Linked DNA regions of Homo sapiens: all the other regions are linked to region 1. The links come from fine-mapping of genetic effects on gene expression. A gene starts in region 1. Each other region holds a variant in brackets. All regions are shown on one strand. Distances are from middle to middle.

Region 1 (2,674 bases):
TGCCCCAGGATTTCCCTCCTCCCGTTCCCACAATGCCTCCCAGGAGCCAGTCAGCGTGAAGGGCCCAATCCTCGGGGCCGCCGGGGGCCCGGGGCCCCTCAGGCAGCGGAGTCCCAGGGCTGCAAAACCCGGCCTGGCTCCTGCTGTGTGAAAGTGGAGCCAGGCCGCTGGGGCGGAGCAGGGACAGGACGCGAGAAAGGGACACGGGCTGAATGGGCGAGGGGCGTTGGTGGGCGACCGCGTTATCTGAAGCCATAAACTTAACAGGACGTAAACCCCGGGCGGGGCGTCCCACGCCCGCAGACTTTGAATCCTGCATGGGCTTTCCGAGGCCAGGCCCTGGCGCCTCCTCCACCCCACCCCAGCCCACCCCACCCCACCCCACCCCACCCACACCGCCCCCGACGCCGAGCTCCGCCAGGTGGAGGAGAGCGTCCCGAGACTGCTGCCCGCAGCCCCTCACCCCGCCCTCGGCCCCGCCCACGCTGCCGGCGCAGGGGCCGGGGTATGACTCATTCTGTGACCCCCGCACTCAGGCCTCCGGGCGCCAAAGGCCTCAATCAATATTTGCCCGTTTGAACCGAGACACCCACTTCCTTCTCCTAGAATGCTAGAATCACACCAAACCCCTATGTAAAAAAAAGAAAAGAAAGAAAAAAAATCACAAAGGCACCACTGGGGAGCCCTTGGGGTAGTGCTGGCGAAGAGGCGAACCTGGAGGAGGGTAGTCCCCGAACAGCTGGGACTGCCGCAGGGCGATAGCTTAAAAGACGGTCAGAACTCGGGTTGGGGTGAGAACAATAACCGCTATTATTTTTTATAATTTGGGGACAGAATGACCTGAGGAAGAACGGGATTTGTAGAGAGGGGTGGTGGGAACTAGGCTGTACCCTTAAGTTGTCTCTCTCTTCCAAGACCCTCCAGTTTAAAAGGGAAGAAGGAAGCCCCAGGATTCATCCCGGCTGTCCAGACCCTCTCCCCACCCTCACCCAGCCCAAACCAAGGTGCACGGGAGGGGTGAGTCGGAGGATGGAAGGGAGAGTGTCGCCAGGGCGGGTGAGGCCCAGCAGGACGCCAGCTGGGGGCTGGAGATGTGCATAGGGACCGGGACTACCAGGAGAAAGGGGCTGCGGGCACAGTCAGCCACGCAGGGGGGACCCTCACCTTGTCTATGAAGGAGGCAAACTTGTTGTTGAGGGTCTTGATCTGCTCCTTCTCCTGGGTGCGCACGGCCTGGATGTTGGGGTCCACCTCCAGGACAAGGGGGCTCAGCAGGCTCTGGTTGACCGTAACTGCGGTGATGCCTCCCATGCCGCTGGCCCCACCATAGCCGCCGCCCAGGCCACCGCGAAAGTTGCTGCTGCCCACTCGGGAGAAGCTCGAGGAGCTGATGCGGGAACCGGGCCCACTCGTGTAGGAGCGGCTGCTGAAGGCCCGGGGGCCAGAGGTGGACACCTTGTAGGACTTCTGGGTCACCCTGATGGACATGGTAGAGGCAGGAGTGGAGGCAGGCGGGCCGAACCAGGCGGAGATCCTAGAAGGAGCGGAGAAGCTGCTTCTTGGTGAGGAGAGCTCTCAGGAATGGCCTTTTATAAAAGAGATCCCAGCCCCGGGGGATGGGGGGGAAAGGCCTCGTACCTGAGTGGCTAGGCCCAGAGGGGGCTGGGCCTAACCCGTCACCTGCCACCTCCGGGCAGGACTCAGGTGGGGGCAGCAGAGAGCTGCCGCCACCCAAGGGCCCGTTCCAACCCTGGAGCCCACTCCAGCACCACCCCCAGAAACCCAGGAAAAGGCAGTTCAGTGAATATGAAACTGGAAGAAATCCTGTCCTGGCACAAGTGCCTGTAACAAGCAGACTTGCCTGGGCCGCCCAGCCACTACAACCCTGACTCCTGGGTCTTGTCTCCCTCCCTCCTGGGGGAAATAAACTGGAGGACTGGGAAGCATGGGAAAAAGGGGTCTCCTAGTATTTGGGTCTCCTCTGAGCTGCCGACACCCCAGAGAAACTCTCCTGTGTTCTCCCTGATTGAAGCGATTATGAGGGCCTGCCTGAGCTGGATGACAGAACAGCTGGAGTCCAAAGCCTTGAATCTGAAATCAACCATTTGCCTCATCTTTCCAGGTTACTGTTCTACCCCTAGCACCTGGTGCAGTGCCAAGAGGGTCTGGGTAGATATTTGTGGAATGAATGAATGAATAAATAAATGAGTGAATAAACATCACACGCGCACACACACACACACACACACACATACACATACACACACAGTGGCTGTCGTCCCTCTACATCTGAAGGTGCAAGATAAAAAGAGATCCAAGGCCAGGCACGGTGGCTCACGCCTGTAATCCCAGCACTTTGGGAGGCTGAGGTAGGCGGATCACGAGGTCAGGAGTTCAAGACAAGCCTGACCAACATGGTGAAACCCCATCTCTACTAAAAATACAAAAATTAGCTGGCCATGGTGTAATCCCAGCTACTCAGGAGGCTGAGGCAGGAGAATCACTTGAACCCGGGAGGCAGAGGTTGCAGTGAGCTGAGATCGTGCCACTGCACTCCAGCCTGGGCGACAGAGCGAGATTCCATCTCAAAGAAAAAAAAGAGCGAGATCCAACACAGCACTTTTCCTGAACATAACCCAGGGGCTTCCTCTCCTTCCAAGATCCTAGGATCCCC
Region 2 (2,680 bases), 37 kb before region 1:
GAGACTGAGGCACAAGAATCACTTGAACCTGGGAGGCTCGGGTTGCAGTGAGCCAAGATCGCCCCACTGCACTCCAACCTGGGTGACAGAGCAAGACTCAGTCTAAAAGAAAAACAAAAAATCCGGGCGTGGTGGCTCATGCCTGTAATCCCAGCACTTTGGAAAGCTGAGGCGGGTGGATCACCTGAGGTCAGAAGTTCGAGACCAGCCTGACCAACATGGAGAAACCCCATCTCTACTAAAAATACAAAATTAGCCAGGCATGGTGGTACATGCCTGTAATCCCAGCTACTCCGGAGGCTGAGACAGGAGAATCACTTGAACCCGGGAAGCAGAGATTGCGGTGAGCTGAGATCACGCCATTGCACTCCAGCCTGGGCGACAAGAGCGAAACTCTGTCTCAAAAATAAATAAATAAATAAGGAGGGATAATCATTCCTATATCCTAGGGCTGTTGTGTGTGTTAACCAAGATGACACGTGCAGAGTGCTCAGAACAGTGCTTAGCACAGCAGTGCCCACCAACTATTCGATTTTTTTTTTTTTTTTTTTTTGAGACAGAGTCTCGCTCTGTCACCCAGGCTGGAGTGCAGTGGTGCTATCTCGGCTCACTGCAAGCTCCGCCTCCCAGGTTCATGCCATTCTCCTGCCTCAGCCTCCAGAGTAGCTGGGACTACGGGCGCCCGCCACCAGGCCCAGCTAATTTTTTGTATTTGTAGTAGAGACAGGGTTTCACCGTGTTAGCCAGGATGGTCTCGATCTCCTGACCTCGTGATCTGTCTGCCTTGGCCTCCCAAAGTGCTGGGATTACAGGCATGATCCACCGCGCCCGGCCTCGATTTTATTATTATTATCATTATTATCATTACTATCTTCTGAGCCCCACTCCCCACCAGGCTTGGCCTACTAGATGCTGACTTGCCTGGATCTCCTCTTGCTCTCACTGTCATCTGAGGACAACCATCCCTTCTGGCTCCCTGAGATGAGAGGGGAAGAGACAGAGAGAAAGAAAGAAAATGTGTAGGGACAAGGGTATACAGGGAGCTTGTAAGATGTGTGTAAATAAATGGGGGGGGAGCATGAGTGCGAAGGTGCAGAGATCATCTATGATCATGCAGGGGCATGTGCGGGCCAGTAAAATCACAGGGGCTATGAAAGTGACACAGTTATGTGTGAGTGCGCCAGGCATCGGTGTATGTGGAAGGGTGGGGTGGGAATGTGTACCTTCTGGGATGGGTATAGTGGATGCTTGCATG[C/T]ATCAGTGTGCAAGGGTATGTGTGAGAAAGACAGAAGCTAGGCATGTGTGTATGGGGGTGTGTTATAAATGTGCAGGTGCGGGTGTGTGAAGGTTGTGTGTGAATGTTCACCTTCCCCACCTCCACCCCAAACACATATCTCTTGGTAAGGGGGCTTCAACAGAGACAAAAGTACCCCAGGCTGAGAGAACAGTGTTCCTGACTCTGGAACAAACGATATTTTTCTCTTTCAAAGCTTTCAGATTTCCTGAAGAAGAGCTGCTAGCTCAACCAAGCTCAGCCTTAAACCCGCCCCTCTGATCGAAACTAAGGAAGGAAACCAGCACCAGCCACCCCCGCCCTGCACCCCCACCCCTGCCAGGGAATGCTCTATGCCAGCAGAACGCACGCCACGCCCCCCATTTCTCCCTCCCCGCTTGGGCCCACGTGCTCTCCCCAGCCACTCAGGGTGCCCAGGGCAGCTCCCAACCACCAACAGAAGTTTAAGCCCCTCTCCAGGCTTTGGGAGCACTTTGCTACCTGCCCAGGCAGGCACTACCCTAGGGCAAGCAGGCCACTCCCTGCCAGGGGGAACTGAGAGGTGGGGGGTAGGGGGTGGCAGCTTCAGAACACACAACCAACCCCCTTCCCGGGAGGCAGGCACTCCACCCCACCCCGCATCTCTTCAAGAAGACAAAATCAGGAAAGAGGGCTGGGTGGGGAGGGCATCTCAGGAGGAAAGGGTCACTTAGAGGCAGGGTTTGAATGTCAAGAATGTCCCTTCCTTTCATTCAAGGGTCCCAAAGAAGACCATTCTTCCAGGAAGTTGTCTCAGTTGTCAGTAGTATTATATGTATCAAGAATAATTAGGCCAGGTGCAGTGGCTTACGCCAGTAATCCCAGCACTTTGGGAGACCAGGGCAGGTGAATCTACTTGAGCCCAGGCATTCAAGACCAGCCTGGGCAACAAAGTGAGACCCCCACGTCTCTACAAAAAAAAAAAAAAAAGGAAATTTGCTGGATGTAGTGACTCATGCCTATAGTCCTAGCTACTTGGAAGGCTGAGGCAGGAGGATCACTTGAACCCAAGTGTTTGAGGCTGCAGTAAGCCATGATCGCACCACTGCACTGCACTCAGCCTGGGAGACTGAGGGAGACCCTGTCTCAAAAAAAAAAAAAAAAAAAAAAGAAGTAGAATTATCACTTAATGTTCAACTACTACATGCCAGGTGCTTTACATAGCATACCTCTGATTAATCGCATATTATAGATGGGGAAACTGAGGCTTGGTTGTCCTAGATCACACAACCAATAGTGGCAGAGTGAGAATCTGAACCCAGGACTATCTGTAAAGCATTTCTCAGGTCTATGCCTGCATCTGTCTGTTCTCCAGCTGGAATAGCCACCCCTCCACCAGAGGGGATGGAGGAATCCAAAGAGAGAATG
Region 3 (2,680 bases), 49 kb after region 1:
GTCCCATCCCTGATCCAGCAGAAACCACCTCTGACCCCTGAGGGTTTCATATAGATTGGGGTGTAGAAGGAAGAGGGATCTGTATTCTTGGAAACACTTCTGAGAGACAGAGGAGGGAGCAGTAGATGTGATGGGTCACAGGCTGTGGGGATCCCTACAAGGGAATTGTGGAATCTTTGCCTTGAAGCGATCTGGTGTTCAAAAGGTCCCTGACTGATCATTAGCAGAAATCTGAACCAGAGGAGGAAATTAGGCCAAAGACAGAGGACAGAGGAGACAGGGAGACACATCTGGCCCTCCCCTACCCTGCTGCTTTATGCCCTTGGCCCACTGCCCAGGGCTTCCCACCCACAGTTTTTTCCTCCAACCCCAGGCCATACTCATCCTCCAAACCTATGGTGCCCTCAACTCTGTTCATTCACTCAACGGAGATATGATTTTTAGGGTGCTAGAGGTCTGGCTAGAAGTTGAGTAAATGATCATGGAAGTTCCCATCTAGGAAAGAGGTGCCCCTGAGTAAGCACCCGTATAGGTAAGGATGGGCATCTTAAAACTAACCGAGGCTGGGCACAGTGGCTCACATCCGTAATCCCAGCAGTGCCACCACACCCGGCTAATTTTTGAATTTTTCATAGAGTTGGGATTTCACTATATTGCCCAGGCTGGTCTGGAACTCCTGGCCTCAAGTGATCCTCCCGCTTGTACCCTTTGGAGTGATTGGATGCCACTTTGTGTCTTCCTTGGCTGTTTTCATACTTGTGTGAAAATGCCCTAACCCAACATGATTACATGTAGATATTCGTTGCAGCAGTTTTGCCAAAACAAAACTACTAAAGATCAAGGCACCCATCACTCAAAGACCTAGGTTAGGTTAATTTTTTTTTTTTTTTTTTTTTTTTTTGAGGCAGAGTCTTGCTCTGTCACCCAGGCTGGAGTGCAGTGGCGCGATCCGGGCTCACTGCAACTGCCTCCTGGGTTCGAGGGATTCTTCTGCCTCAGCCTCCTGAGTAGCTGGGATTTCAGGGGCCCGCCACCATGCCTGGCTAATTTTTGTATTTTTAGTAGAGACGGGGTGTCACCTTGTTGGCCAGGCTGGTCTCGAACTCCTGACCTCGTGATCCGCCCGCCTCGGCCTCCCAAAATGCTGGATTACAGGTGTGAGTCACCACGCCCGGCCTAGGTTAATTTTTAAAATGTTGGGTTAAGGCAAAAAAAA[T/A]TTTTTTAATTTAAAAATTAGCCAGGCATGGTGACATGTACCTGTAGTCCCACTTAATCAGGAGGCTGAGGTGGAAGGATTGCTTGAGTCCAGGAAGTAAAGGTTGCAGTAAGCTGTGATCATGCCACTGCATTTCAGCCTAGGTAACAGAGTGTGACTCTGTTTCACAAAAAAAAGCTGGCCGGGCACAGTGGCTCACGCCTGTAATCCCAGCAATTTGGGAGGCCGAGGCGGGCAGATCACAATGTCAGGAGATTGAGGCCATCCTGGCTAACATGGTGAAACTCTGTCTCTATTAAAAGTACAAAAAATTAGCCAGGCAGCTGGGTGTGGTGGCTCATGCCTGTTATCCCAGCACTTTGGGAGGCCAAGGCGGGCGGATAACTTGAGGTCAGGAGTTCGAGACCAGCCTGGCCAACATGGTGAAACCCTGTCTCTACTAAAAATACAAAATTAGCTGGGTGTGGTGGCACATGCCTATAATCCCAGCTACTTGGGAAGTTGAGGCAGGAGAATCGCTTGAACCCAGGAGGTGGAGGTTGCAATAAGCCGAGATCATGCCATTGCACTCCAGCCTGGGCAACAAGAGCGAAACTCTGTCTCAAAAAAATATATATATATAATATATATATGTGTGTGTATGTATATATGTGTGTATATATGTATATATGAGTATATGTGTATATATGAGTATATGTGTATATATGTGTATATGTGTATATACATATGTGCATATATGTGTGTGTATATGTGTGTATGTATATATATACATATATACATACATATATATATATATATACATACACACATACACACACACACACATATATATGAAATAAAATTTAAAATCTTGCTGGGCATGGTGGCTCATGCCTGTAATCCCAGCACTTTGGGAGGCCAAGGTGGGTGGATCATCTGAGGTTGGGAGTGGAGAAACTCTGTCTCTACTAAAAATACAAAATTAGCCAGGCGTGATGGCGCATGATTGTAATCCTATCTACTTGGGAGACTGAGGCAGGAGAATCGCTTGAACCAAGGAGTTGGAGGTTGCAGTGAGACGAGATCGAGCCACTGCACTCCAGCCTGGCAACAGAGCAAGACTCTGTCTCAAAAAAAAAAAAAAAAAAAATAGCCATGCGTAGTGGCATACACCTGTAGTCCCAGCTACTTGGGAGGCTGAGGCAGGAGATTTGCTTGAACCCAGCAGGCAGAGGTTGCAGTGAGTGAAGATCGCGCCACTGTACTTCAGCCTGGGTGACAGAACAAGACTCCATCTCAAATAAATAAATAAATAAAACTAAATAAAATAAAATCTCCCCTCTCCACTCCCTAGAAGTAACCACTGTTAAATACCTTTTAAAATTAGACATATACAAGCACATTTCATTATGTTTTATATATGTAAAATTATCCAGCTCTGCATCTTGATTTCTTTTTTTATTTTTTTTTAATTGAGACAGAGTC

The links. PIP is the estimated chance that this variant, and not a neighbour inherited with it, causes the effect. A credible set is the group of variants that fine-mapping cannot tell apart.
Region 2: its variant is the best candidate, but not a certain one, in a credible set for the expression of KRT8 in whole blood (INTERVAL, PIP 0.65).
Region 3: its variant is the best candidate, but not a certain one, in a credible set for the expression of KRT8 in whole blood (TOPMed, PIP 0.89).

Annotation. Positions count from the first base shown.
Region 1 is chr12:52,903,494-52,906,167 of GRCh38, forward strand. KRT8 (keratin 8) reads right to left here and starts at 1,583. Exons shown (of 8, transcript NM_002273.4): 1 at 1,165-1,583. The coding sequence starts at 1,488. RefSeq lists a silencer at 354-523.
Region 2 is chr12:52,866,177-52,868,856 of GRCh38, forward strand. No RefSeq gene overlaps it. Among named protein-coding and RNA genes, the nearest start is that of KRT78, 19 kb to the left of the region's middle. The variant C/T (reference allele first, on the strand shown) is at 1,256.
Region 3 is chr12:52,952,963-52,955,642 of GRCh38, forward strand. No RefSeq gene overlaps it. Among named protein-coding and RNA genes, the nearest start is that of KRT18, 5.2 kb to the left of the region's middle. The variant T/A (reference allele first, on the strand shown) is at 1,217.